Homo sapiens: one gene and its partners. The protein of the gene in region 2 purifies or fractionates together with the protein of the main gene of each other region. This does not show direct contact. Each region holds a gene or a part of one and is shown on either strand. Other genes may lie near its edges.

Evidence for each region.
Region 1: the proteins of SLC35F5 (region 2) and SCFD1 purify together in Homo sapiens (affinity purification with mass spectrometry; one large-scale study listed by BioGRID and IntAct). This does not show direct contact.
Region 3: the proteins of SLC35F5 (region 2) and ITPR3 purify together in Homo sapiens (affinity purification with mass spectrometry; one large-scale study listed by BioGRID and IntAct). This does not show direct contact.
Region 4: the proteins of SLC35F5 (region 2) and ATP7B purify together in Homo sapiens (affinity purification with mass spectrometry; one large-scale study listed by BioGRID and IntAct). This does not show direct contact.

What each region holds. Positions count from the first base shown.
Region 1 is NC_000014.9:30,733,335-30,736,350, reverse strand, and holds the end of SCFD1 (sec1 family domain-containing protein 1), read right to left. Parts: intron 1,562-3,016; coding exon 1,493-1,561; intron 766-1,492; coding exon 742-765; 3' UTR 501-741; downstream 1-500. UniProt on the Homo sapiens protein: Plays a role in SNARE-pin assembly and Golgi-to-ER retrograde transport via its interaction with COG4. Involved in vesicular transport between the endoplasmic reticulum and the Golgi.
Region 2 is NC_000002.12:113,743,143-113,746,642, forward strand, and holds part of SLC35F5 (solute carrier family 35 member F5), read right to left. Parts: intron 3,198-3,500; coding exon 3,135-3,197; intron 653-3,134; coding exon 571-652; intron 1-570.
Region 3 is NC_000006.12:33,627,822-33,631,321, forward strand, and holds part of ITPR3 (inositol 1,4,5-trisphosphate-gated calcium channel ITPR3), read left to right. Parts: intron 1-2,216; exon of another isoform or gene 2,217-2,563; intron 2,564-3,422; exon of another isoform or gene 3,423-3,500.
Region 4 is NC_000013.11:52,004,951-52,008,450, reverse strand, and holds part of ATP7B (copper-transporting ATPase 2), read left to right. Parts: intron 1-3,500. UniProt on the Homo sapiens protein: Copper ion transmembrane transporter involved in the export of copper out of the cells. It is involved in copper homeostasis in the liver, where it ensures the efflux of copper from hepatocytes into the bile in response to copper overload.

The DNA.
Region 1 (3,016 bases), on a different chromosome or scaffold from region 2:
TGATATGAGGCTCATTAGGAGGGAAGGCTCCCTGGCCTTTATAATAGGAAGTGTTTATTTTTCTTCCCTTTCAAGCAATTGGCTTGCTTTTTATCTTACAGACGTACTGAACGGTATGACTGATCAATACTTCTTGTCAGTACTGCATACCAAAGAAGCTTGGAATCAAGTTTAACACTAACTTTTACGTATTATTTACAACTTTATGAGATGACTGTTTTGTATTTGTCCATTCCAAATCATGTTAGTGTTGCCTTGATCACCATTACATGAAGGAGGGACTTTATGTGATAAAATATACATAGGTGTGCCAGAAGAAGGGAACTTAAAGTGGCTTAAAATCTCCATCTAAAATCTATAGGCAACATGGATACCCAACAAACTATGAGAAAGTAGTTGTATAATTAAAATGCATACAAGTAGGGGACTCACGAACCAATCAAATAAAATTTAAATATGATAACCTTAAAATGTCACCAGCTTCAATCATAACCTATTAGTTATTATATTAGTACTTTCTGATTTATCAGAGAAAATGAACAATGTTGAAATTTTATTTCTGAAATGTTTCTTTTAATCAATACATATTAAGTATATAATTTCCTTAAAAATTAACAAATAACTCTGATTTTCACTGTTAGGACACTGTTACAGAGAAGGAAACATATTGCTCTTCTAACTTTTCTTCTTTTTACATTTATCCACATTCCAAGTAGATTATCATAGTAAGGTTCTTCTGTGTTACTTTTGTCCAAGTTGTGACAACTAAAACAAAACACAAAATCATACATAAAACTTTTAAAAAAGATCATAAAAGAAACATTCAAACATATTTGTAAACCCCTTAATAAATTACACTTCCTATTTTATTCACTGCATTCCTAGAATAATAAATCTTAATGTTCACCACTAACTCAAATGTTAAAACTGAAGGCTGGTCATGGTGGCTCATGCCTGTAATCCTAGCTATTTGGGAGGCTGAGGTGGGAGGATCACTTGAGGCCAGGAGTTTGAGACCAGCCTTGGCAACATAGCAAGAGACTGTCTCTACCAAGAAAAAGAAAAGAAAATGGAATTGCAATAAACGTCGTCATAGTAAAGAAATGTAAACATTATTAGGTAACGTTCAATTGATGGAAAAGAAAAACCCTGGGAATTAAAAAAATTAGTGCTAACTTTGTGACAATATAAAGAGAAATGTCATGAGTGACACACTACTGACAGTTCTCATATATTTTTGTATTTCTAAAGGATCATTAAAAGCCAAAGAAAAGGCTTTCAGTTCTGGAAGGATGGGCAAACTCCTACTGGAAACATTATTACTTATCAAGGTTTTCTTAGTCGTCCATGAAAACACCTTATCTTGGTATAGCTGGATGGCTTTGGTTTCGGCTGGTTCAGGTGAGTAAGTGGTTTTCTTTCTCTCTTTTGAAAAATACCAATAGCAACTAGGGGTATGTTAACAGAAACAAACAACAAATGTATACTTTACCTGTTTTATGAACTGTGTAGCATTAAAAAGCTCACTGCAGCCATATAAAATGTGTTTGCCTTGTTTCCCCTGTAAAAATCAGAGTCAGAACTTAGATACAAGTAACAAGAAATATATTCAATATTCCCAAGAAAAGAGATTAATATGCTAGTTTTTTTGTTATTCTTAACAGTCTTTCTTTGGGATACTGTTGGATTTTAGTATACACATCTACCTAAAATTGCATGAAATAAAGAGGAATAAAGTGGTGAAATGAGCATAGTATTTTTGTCCCCCAAAATATATACTATGGCATACTATTGGTGCCATTTCCTATTACACTAAAAATAGAAGGAATCTCACTGTCAAATTTCACAGGAGCAACAGTTACCTATAAAATCTTAGAACAACATTCTTCCAATGTAGGATGTGTACTACTTGAAGAATACATTCGAGTTTCTTTATGCTGAAAGTGGGCTATGGTGCAGGTGGCATGGATTGTGCTTTTAGTCTCACTTGAGCAACACAGTATTTATAAGTTAATACATCTCATTCCACATTGTCAACATCAGGAATAAAAGTCACAGTTACAATGTTGGAACCCAATCACAACAGCCAAAACTTCTCTATTAGCGATTTGCTAATTTCTTGTATGTATCGTGAACCTGAAGGTAAATTCATGAGATTTCTTTTGTAATATAAAAAAGTTTATTCTAGAACAAAGTAATTTGAGGATTCATCAAAGGACAGAGGAATGATGGCTTTGTAACACAACTCTGTGATGTATAAGCTGAGCAAATATTGTTGGCTGAATACATGTCCTAGATGGCCATCTCTGAGAATAAATAAAACAAAAGCCACAACTCATATTTTTTTCAAAATGAGATGGTATATGGGTCATATAATTGGGATTCTTGTGGCTAACAGGCATTAATTAAAGGTAGAGGTCACAGTATGCAAGGAGAAAGCAGGCACAGGGAAACATTAGAGGGGTCCAGAACTTCTAGGCATAGCTCCCAGGAGAACCTGATTCTTGTTCAAGGAGAGGTCTTTTATGCCTCTCTGGTCAGGTAGGCAAAATTGGGCTGCATGACCAGCATGACCAGGCTCAACTGCAGAAACCAAGGGAACATGACAGAAACCAGGTGAAAAATGTAAAATCAATCTTTACATTTTCTATTAAACAATGCTGGCAAGCCAGCCCAAGGTTGCCCCCTGGTTTATCGTAGTCTCTAGCCCAGGCCCAGAATTCATCACTAGTTAATACTTCATTCAGGTTTGGCTAAACATCAGCACCATGGATCCTGGTATTCTTGGAGATAAGCACAGGGGTACAGTAGCCCAGTTGAGATTAATCCTGACTTGTACAGTCCCCACCCTGGACCAAGCTTTCTTAACCAAATTACTCATCATCATTCTTTTCTAATCGTTTTTAGCCATCCAATGAAGTGTAGGTGTAATTTTAAAGAAACACTGTAGTTTACCAAACATTCCAGTGCAAACTTGTTCTTAATCATGTACAAGCTTGATGACCCCTTTACTTAC
Region 2 (3,500 bases):
TATATACATAACTGCCTATTTCAGGATTTTAGTTTGATTTACTATTTTAGTATTCCTAGTAAAACTTTATTTGGATTTTTCCTCACGCATACCCAATTTACGAGAATTAGTTTCTTGGGCAAGCACGCAGAACAATTCTCTATAGGTCCATTCCTTGCAAGGGAAATTAAGGATAAATACTGCACCTTATGTTAAAGGTGGCATTCTTTACTAAATTCACAGAATCAGCAAAACTCTTATAATTTGCTATTAGGCTCTTTGAGGGCATATTTAAGAGGATATTATTTGTTTATATATAAGCGTGTGATGCATGTGTGTATGTGTGTATACATATATATGATGAAACCATAGAGATTTATGGTATTTGGAAATTATTTCCAGTTGAAATAATACAAAAATGATTATACTATATTAGATTCACAATCCAGTCAAACTTCTAGAAGACTATAGGCTGAGTCAAGACCACATGGAGCAGAACTGCTACATGTTTCAGTCAACCCACATCATCACTAAGTTCTGAAGTGGCTTGAATAAAGGTAAACTTTCTACCCATTTCCAAGTTTTGCTTACTTTTTTCAGTATCAATGTTTGTGCTCTCAGGTTTTTCACTTGGAAGATCATGGAATTTCACAGGCACATACAGAGGTTCACTCTGGAATGTAACAGAAAAAAATATAAACAACAAATATAAAAGCTAACATAGTGGTTAAAATTTAAATGGATAGTACGTAGACACAAATACCATCTAAAACGTGGTTGTTCACCACCAAGTTTAAACAGCAATTTTCAAGACTTAAAAAAGGAAACTCAACAGATCCATACAGCTACAATGACAGAAAAGAATCAGTTTACAGTTTAGCAATGTAATGTAACAGCATTGGCATATTATGATATCTAATATTTAAATGTCATAAAAACATATCTCTTTCTTAGCTAACAGATTCCATCTCAGCTAACAGATTCTCTCTCATTCCTTTTCATTCATTTAACAAATGCTCATAGTAGGAGTCTGAGCTCCTACTATGTCAGACGCTGTTCTAAGTCCTGGGGATAGAAGGGTGAATAAAAGCAGTCTCTTCCTCAGTGATCATGCAGTCTAACAGGCAAGGCAGATAACAAACTGATAACCAGGTATATAGTATGTATTTATATTTACTAAATTGTCTCCTCTTATTATGTAAAACTCAATAAAAAACTAAAATTCTTGAAGACCTTTACACAAAATAGCTACTACTTACCAGTTCTTACTGTGTATTGAGTACCAACTCTAGAGCAGTTAAACATATATTTCTCATTAGTACTCACAATAATTTTATAGAATATGGCCGGCACAGTGGTTCAGGCCTGTAATCCCAGAACTTTGGGAGGCGAGGCTGAGGCGGGCAGATCACTTGAGGTCGGGAGTTCGAGACCAGCCTGGCCAACATGGTGAAACCCCATCTCTACTAAAATACAAAAATTAGCTGAGCGTGGTGGTGTGTGCCTGTAATCCCAGCTACTCATGAGGTGGAGGTAGGCAAATTGCTTGAAACCAGGAGACGGAGGTTGTGCAGTGAGCTGAGATTGCGCCACTGCACTCCAGCTTGGGTGACAGAGCGAGACTCCATCTCAAAATAATAATAATATTTATACTTTTAGAGAATAAAGCTGAGGTATAAAGTAATCAGGTAGCAGACAAAACAATTAAAGCCAGGTTTGTCTAACCATGCTCCAAAGGTCCATATTTTTAGGTAGTTATAAATTCCTCAACTGTTTTTGCAAATGTTCTTCAGATGATCTATATTTAAGGTACAAATCTCCAACTAGGCTGATTCTTCAAAATTAACAGAACTTTTTTTTATTTCTTTGATTTCTCTTTTAACTCCTGGTACAGAGCTCTACCAACAACAAAAAAAAATTCAGTAAATGAAGGGACAGTGGGTCTGGAAATAGACATAATCTCTTTGTTACACTGAAGTTTTCATTACGGCATCTGGCCTAGAGCAATTTGACATATCCATCTTACAGATAATAGTAAGAATTAGTACAAGAGTAGCCAGAAGAGCAGGCTGCCATCTCAACTTTGCCCTCTGTACTGATAGAGACAAATGATATTAAATTATTTTATTGATGCTTAAGATCCCAGGAAAAAAAAATTCTTCATAGTATCTATTAACCTACTCTGCATGCCATCGCAGTTCTAAAAAACAGAGAGACAAACAAGAAACTGTGCTGTGAATAAGGTCACCAAGCCAGTGCTTCACAAATTGCTATTAAATTTTAGAGTAACTAAAATTTTTCTCAGATAAAATGCCATGTTTGGAAAGAAAACAAGTATCATTAAAAATACATTTTAAAGAGATGCCACCCTGAGCAACATAGCAAGACCATGTTCCTAAAAAGTAAAAATAAAAAGTTAGTGGTGGAGTATGCTTGTATTTAGGAGGCTGAGACAAGGTGATTGCTTAAGCCCAGCAGTTGAAAGTTAGAATAAGCCATAATTGTGCCACTGTACTCCACCAGAGGCAATAGACCAAAACCCTGTCTCTAAAAAGAAATCTAAAAATAAAAAATAAAAAAAGAGATGCCTGAGTGATCATCTTAAAAAAAGATTTTTATATACTACCTCTCCAACTAGATTACAAATACTTAAAATAAGTGACTATGTCAATTACTTTACTTGCTTATTACCTGTCCCCTCGCAAATACGCACACACTCACACACTAAAACAAAGCTGTATCTTCAGAGCCTAGAACGTGTTTAACACAGATTTGTCACTGTAAAAAATTTGTGGAACAAACGAATAATTTGCCTATATAGTCTCAGTGTCAAAAATATTTGTTTCTAAATGATAATAATAATGTGCATGAAGTGAAAAAGTTGGTTAGTAACAAAGGATTGTCCTTTATTATTTTCACTCCTGAACCAGTTTTCCCTTCCCCTCTCTCTTCAGAGGCAGCTAAATTGCTTACCTCTAGGCCCCAGGTAACCCTAAGGAGAAAAAAAGTACCAAATTACAATCCTAATGATGGGCACCCAATATTGAGCCATATCTATGTTGTAATACAGCTTTGCTGCCATCAAACCTGTTTCAGTTTTTCCTACCATGGCTCAACCCCACCTCTCTATTCCTGACAAGAAAAGAAGCACTTACCAAAGAACTATTCATAGTTGTATCTGTTGTGCAAGCAGCAAAGTAACCTTCAGCATCTGCAAACTAAATACAGATAACAAGATACAAAATTCAATGAAACTTACATTATACTGTAGGACTAGTCAGACGTAACTCAGATAAATAGAAGCAAAAATCCAGAATCAACCTGTAAGACTAAAACTGTTACTAATAATAATAGCAGCTAATGCCACATATTCACCATTGTGAGGTAGGTATTATCTTCATTTTATTGATGAAAAATTTGAGGCTGAGAGATTTTTAATCCTGACAGTCAGGATTAAAACCCAAGTTAGTCTAAAACCAAAGCTTATGCCCTTTTCGGAACACTACTATAACATTTCAGAT
Region 3 (3,500 bases), on a different chromosome or scaffold from region 2:
TAGGCACTTCCCAGGCAGTGCGAGGATGTGATGGAGAAGGGATGAAGTGGAGAGGGGGTGGCGCGGGGTTGGCTCAGCCTAGAACCAGTGCCACACATCCACCTTGAGACTCCAGGGTCTCAGGCTGCATCCAACTGCTCGGCCTGAATCCTGCCGGCCTGAAAGAATCCTGCTGGAGCCACTTGATTACACTCTGCCCTGCCCTACATTCCTGACCCCATATCCCCTCCCTAGCTTGGCCCACTGGGGCGGTGGCTTGGGTTGGGGGTGGGGACACATGCTGAGTTTTAGGGTGGGGCCACACCAGCTTTCTGTTTTCAGCTTAGGGGGAGGTTTCTGGGTTTGGATGACCTCTGCACACATGCCTGGAGTCCCTGCATGTCCACCCCCAGCCCTGCTCTCTAGACTTCACCCCATGTGGGGCTGGGACACCCCTCTCTGGGAGTGAGGGCTGTGTGAGTGGAAGGGAAGAAACCTGGGGTGGGGGAAGGAGGAAAGCAGAACGCAGATCTCTACTAAGTTCATCACAGGCCTCTGAATGTGAGCTCTGAGCCCCCTGGGTATGTCAGGCTGGTCATGCGAAAGGTGCCAGTGACACCCAGCATTTGTACCTGCAGTCACAATTCCCTGCAGTCAGGACACCTGGCTTGGAGAGCTTGGGGTCACGCAGCAGGGGACTGAGAAGAGAAGTTTGTAGGGCCTTTCAGGCTAGGGACTGTGAGAGAAATCGTGGGTGCAGAAATGAGGCTGGGCGTTCACAACACAGTGAGTCCAGGGTGTGGGCTGGGGATGGAACTGGGTGGAGCCACATGCCACATTACAGAGGGATTTCCACTTGGGGAGACAGTCAGGAGAGACTCATTGCAGAGGCTTCAGTGAGGGAGTAAAATGGCCAGAGTGCTATGTTTTTTTGGTCAGCAGGTGGGCAGAGCCGGAAGGGGCTGTCAACACAAATCTCAGTCCAGGAGCAGCTGCAGGTGCTTGAGGCAGACACCTGTGCATATTTGGTTAGCAAATTGCTCTCCCCATCGCTCAGCCAGCCAGCCCGCCAGCCAGCCAGCCATTAGCCCTTCCTGCACAGTGCAGGAGAGCCCTCTTCTCCAGTATGAGTCTAGAAATAGATGATGGGGGTGATATAGGTAATGGGAGGGAAAATTAAGTCTGTGTCTCAAAGATGATGATGATGATGGCAGTGGGTAGACTTTACAGATCACTTACATTGGGTGGCCCTGGCCTTTACCTATGCTCTCACAGCCTGAGGCATAAATACAATTCAGGAAAAGTAGTGGGAAGCATTTAGAACACCAATTTGCTTACCACCTAGACTTAATCATTGTTTACAGTGGTCACATTTGATATTTGTATTTTTTGCTGAAGTATTTTATGATAAATTACATACATTGCATCTTTTTCACCTCTAAATATTTTATTATACATCCCTATGTAACTACAGTGTTGTGATCACACCAATTAATAGTTTCCTAATAGCATTCAGGGCCCAATCCATAGTCAGATGTGCCCATTGTCCTCAGTGGTGTGATCAGAGTTCACTGTAACCTCGAACTCCTGAGCTCAAGCAATCCTCCTGTCTTGGCCTCCCAAAGTGCTGGGATTACAGCCACTGGGCCCAGGTTGTCTGTGTTTGACCGACCATTGGTTTCTTTTTTTTTTTTTTTGAGATGGAGTTTCCCTCTTGTAGCCCAGGCTAGAGTGCAATGGTGCAATCTCGGCTCACTGCAGCCTCTGCCTCCCGGGTTCGAGTGATTCTCCTGCCTCAGCCTCCAGAGTAGCTGGGATTACCAGTGCCAGCCACCACGCCCAGCTAATTTTTGTATTTTTAGTAGAGACGGGTTTCACCATGTTGGGCAGGCTGGTCTTGAACTCCTAACCTCAGGTGATCTGCCCGCCTCAGCCTCCCAAAGTGTTGGGATTACAGGCGTGAGCCACCACGCCGGGCCTGACCATTGGTTTCTTTAAATCAGGATCCTAGGCCAGGCGCAGTGGCTCATGCCTGTAATCCCAGCTCTTTGGGAGGCTGAGGCAGGCGGATCACGAGGTCAAGAGATCAAGACCATCCTGGCCAACGTGGTGAAACTCCGTCTCTACTAAAAATACAAGAATTAGCTGGGCATCGTGGCACATGCCTGTGGTCCCAGCTACTCGGGAGGCTGAGGCAGGAGAATCACTTGAACCCGGGAGGTGGGGGTTGCAGTGAGCTGAGATCGTGCCACTGCACTCCAGCCTGGCAACAGAGTGAGACTCCGTCAAAAAAAAAGAAAAACCATCGAGATCCTGTCAAGGTACTCGTGTTACATTTTCTTATGCCTCTTCAGTTTCCTTTAATCTAAAACAGCGCCCCGCCCTCATCTCCTTTTCCACCATGAACACTGAGTTTCTGGCAAGGCGGGGTTGTGGTGTAGGCTGCTTCACTTTCTGGATTGATTTGTCAGGGCTGCCTTTGTTGCTTTGTTTCCCAGAGAGCTCTGCGGAGGTTTGGAGCCAGGGCGAGTTGGCCTGAGGGTCTGCCCTGCTGAGGGTCCTACAGCCTCAGTTACTCTGTCAAGTGAGAAAGACTGAGAGAGTCCAGTTCTGGGTTATGGAGAGTGGGAGACAAGCCTGGGGCTGGCAGGCCAAATATATGAGGCAAGGGCTGGCTGGCGGCCCATGGTTGCACCTTTTCTCCCTCTCTTCCCAGCTTTCCCTTTGGTCTCCTGCTCCCTGTCTTTCTTCTCCTTGGCCTTACAGATATGTCCTCCCATGCACCCAGCACCGCTGTAGAGACCCCAGGACTTGTCAGACAGCCCGCCTGACCCTGACAGCCAGAAACCCAGGCCTGTGGCAGAGGCAGGGTGGCACACTGGCCCCGACCTTTATTTCTACTGGGCCAAGTTTAGTTGTTCTTGCTATCTCCATTCTTCCTGGAGAGACTATTTGGGTTCTCTGCGTGTGCGGCTTATTGTCCTTTCTAGACTTTAAGCTTTCTGAAGGCTTTAGCTGTACTTGTTTTAAAATTCTATATATTCCATATACTGTCTGGCCCCCCGTTGGTTGGCACAGGGTGGATTCTTGGTAAAGATATGTAGAGGTAAAGGAAATGGTTGCTTTTGCAGGGATGCAGGAGTTAATTTCTTTTCTCTGATGAGCCAGGAGCCCCAACCAGTGAATCTGGGTTTCTCTCTTAACATTCCGCCTAGTAGGTGTGACTTTGGCTATCTGGAGAAAGGGCCCCCCAGGCTTCCCACCCACCACCAGCCCATCCCAGTGTTCTGACAGTGCCTGCTGTTGGAGTGGCCTCCTTGGGGCTGGCCTGCATCTGTGGAGTGGTGGCCAGTTGTAGGGTCTAGCCCTACGGGGCTTAGTGGGTGTTCTCCCCATGTGCGGAGATGAGAGATTGTAATAAATAAAAGCACAAGACAAAGAGATAAAGAAAAAACACCTGGGCCGGGGTGACCACTACCATCAAGACGCGGAGACCAGTAGTGGCCCTGAACGGCTGGGGT
Region 4 (3,500 bases), on a different chromosome or scaffold from region 2:
CAGCCCCGTGCTCCAACCTCTGGAGATTGTGCCAATCACCAGTGGACAATGATCTAATCAGTGATGCCGGCAGAATAGAGCTTTCTTTAAATTTTTATTTATTTAGTTTTTTGAGAGGTAGTCTCACTCTGTTGCTAGGCTGGAGTGCAGTGGCGGGATCTCGGTTCACTGCAACCTGTGCCTCCCGGGCTCAAGTGATTCTCCGGCCTCAGCCTCCTGAGTAGCTGGGATTACAGGCGCACGCCACCACACCCAGCTAATTTTTGTATTTTTAGTGGAGACGGGGTTTCACCATGTTGGTCAGGGTCATCTCTATCTCTTGATCTCGTGATCCGCCCACCTCGGCCTCCCAAAGTGTTGGAATTACAGGCGTGAGGCCACTGTGCCTGGCCTTTTTTTTTTTAACCAATGCAGTGGATCACAAATAGAGCTTTCTTAAAAACCCTAAATGATGGGTTTTGGAGAGCTTCCTGTTAGTGAACACATCAAGGTGCTGGGAAGGTGGTTCCTGGAAAGGATATGGAAGCTCCTGGAAACCTCCATTCCCATATTTTGCCCTATCTTTTCCATGTGGTGGTTTCTTAGCTGTATTTTGTATAATAAACTGGTGATATTAAATAAAGTGCTTTCCTAAGTTCTGCGAGCTGTTCTAGCAAATTACCCAACCTGAGGAGGTAATTGTAGGAACCTCCTGACTTTACAGTTGGTCAGGAGTACAGATGGCCCAGACCCAGCGACTGGCATGTGAAGTGTGGGCATTCTTGTGGTCTTGTGGGCCTGAGCCCTTACCTGTGGGGTCCGTGCTAACTCCAGATGGTTGGTGTCGGAATTGAATTGAATTGTAGGGCACCCAGTTAGTGTCTGGAGAGAGAGCATTGGTTGGTGTGAAGAAAAACCCCACACATTTGGTGTCAGAAGTGTCGTGAGTGGAAACAGTACAGAAGACATGATGTTAGAGTTTGGGGAACAATAGGAAAGCCAGAGTGGCTGTGGCAGAGGGAAGGAGTGGGAGTGATAGAACAGGAGATCAGAGTTCATCATTGCTTTACAGATGGGGAAACTGAGCCAGACACAAGTTAAGTAACTTGCCCGATGTACCTTGCTTATAAGAGGCAGATCTAGGATTGAGTCCTAGCCAGGCCTGCCTGACTTTCTCAGCGATTTTTTATTGTCAAAACTTACTTGACACTTGGTCATACCACCTGGTATGATTATTTAATGAATATAGCTTTTATTTGCAACTCTGTGCTTCTTGAAATGGGAACCGGGTTTTTACCGTTTAAAAAACTATTTCCCACATGTAGGTGCACCACAGTTGTTCTTGAATGAATGGATTCTCGACATGATTTCTCCACATTGTTTTCTCTTCAGAGGCCTCTCTGTGGGGCAGCAGTGACCTGGTCATTCAGCCTTCAGTCCACAAACATTATGGAGCACTTTCTGTTTGCCTGGTACTGGGCCAAGCAGGGGGATGCATAGATGAAGAGAGGTCAGCCCCTGTGCTGGATGCATGCTGGGACAGAGCTGTCTACATGGTACAGCACCCACAGAAGGGGCAGAAAAATTCCTTCAGTGGGAGGTGGTGCTCGAGTGGGTCTTTCAGGAAGAGCAGGCATTGATTGGGCACACAGGAGCATGGAGAGAAGGGCATTGAAGGCAGAGACCAGCATGTATAAAGGTCCAGAGGACTGGAAATGGAAAGAGGCATTTAGGGGACTGTGAGGGGCGTGGCAAGGCTGGAAGAGTGGAAGGCTGGAAGGTCTGTGGAAGACCCTGTTTATCAGGCTAGGAGTTTGGACTTTACCCTACAGGAAAACAGCGTAAGTCACTCCTGCAAGGCAGAGGGTGAACTGGGCAGGGAGCTGCGGGAGACCAGCTAGAGACTGTTGGAAATGATCGTCCCCATCCAGACCAAAGGTGGCTGAAAAGCCTGAAAAAGAACTGTAAGTTGGGTCTTCTACCCTTATTCTTTATGGAATTGTCTTCTCAGTAGAGAAACTAGGCTATCCAAACTCAACTGTCCTGAGTATTAGAGGCCAGTGGTCGTTTTAGCAGCAACAGAGTGCAGTTGGTACCTACGGAGCAGGGTAATAAACTAAGCAAGTGACAGAGATGGATTTAAGTGCTTCTTTACGTGACACACATTTTCTTCTCAATGGGAGGGATGGAGATGGCCCAGTAACATGAACACTGCTCACTGATGCCATAGCATAGATATCGAGGAAGTATCCGTGTTCAGTGCTGAGAGCCCCGAACAAAGATTTACCCACGAATTTATTAACAGCAAGCCAGTCATTAGCATTGTTTCTATAGATATTCATTAACTAAAAGTATCCCTTATGGGAAAGGAAGGGATGGGCCGAAATAAAGGGGTGGGTCTGGCTAGTTATCTGCAGCAGGAACATGCCCTTAAGGCACAGATCGCTCATGCTGTTTGTGGTTTAAGGACACCTTTAAGCAGTTTTCTGCCCTGGGCGGGCCAGGTGTTCCTTGCCTTCATTCCAGTAAACCCACAACCTTCCAGCGTGGGCGTTACGGCCATCATGAACATTTCACAGTGCTGCAGAGATTTTGTTTATGGTCAGTTTTGGGGCCAGTTTATGGCTAGATTTTGGGGGGCCTGTTCCCAACAGAGGCACAAAGGGACTAAGATAGAAATTGGTACCAAGAAGTGGAGTGTTGGTATAACAGATCCCTGAAAATGCAGAGTTGGCTTTGGAACTGGGTAAAGGGTAGAGGCTGGAAGAGTTTGGAGGTACATGCTGGAAAAAGCCTAGATAGTGATAAACTAAGCATTAAGGATTATTTTGGTGAGGGCTTAGAAGAACAGAGCTGTAGACAGAACCTGAATCTTCTTAGAGATTACTTAAGTGGTCATGATCAGAATGTTGGTGGAAGTATGGACAGCAAAGGTCATTTTGATGAGGTCTTAGACAGAAATGAGGAATATTTTATTGGGAACTAGAGAAAAGCCCATTCTGTTTTTATTTATAAAATGGCAGAGAACGTGGGTCAGTTGTGTCTGTGCCCTAATGCTTTGTGGAGGATAGATGATGAACTAGATGAAGAGTGATGAACTAGGATATTTGGTGGAAGAAATATCTAAGCAGAGTGTGCAGGGTGCTGCATGGCTTCTCTTGATTGCTTATAAGAAAATGCAAGAAGAAAACAAATTAAAGACAGAAATTATAATCAAAAGGGAAGCAGAACTTAGAAAGATTTGGAAAATTTTCAGCCTGGCTAGATCATAAAGAATAAAAAGGCTGCTGGGAAGAATGACCTTAAAGGGATTTGGGAGGTCTTTGGGACTGCTCCTCCTGTCACAGGCCCAGAGTGCCTGGACCATGAGGGCAGGAGGGAGAGGACCATACCCCGCCAGCAGGTCTATGGGTCTAGTTGCCCAGGGCCACCTCGAGCCTCTGCTTCCTGCATTCTGCGGTGCTCCTTGGCCACCCCAGGTGCGGCTCAGGTGTGGCTTGGGCTGCTGCTCTGGAAGGTGC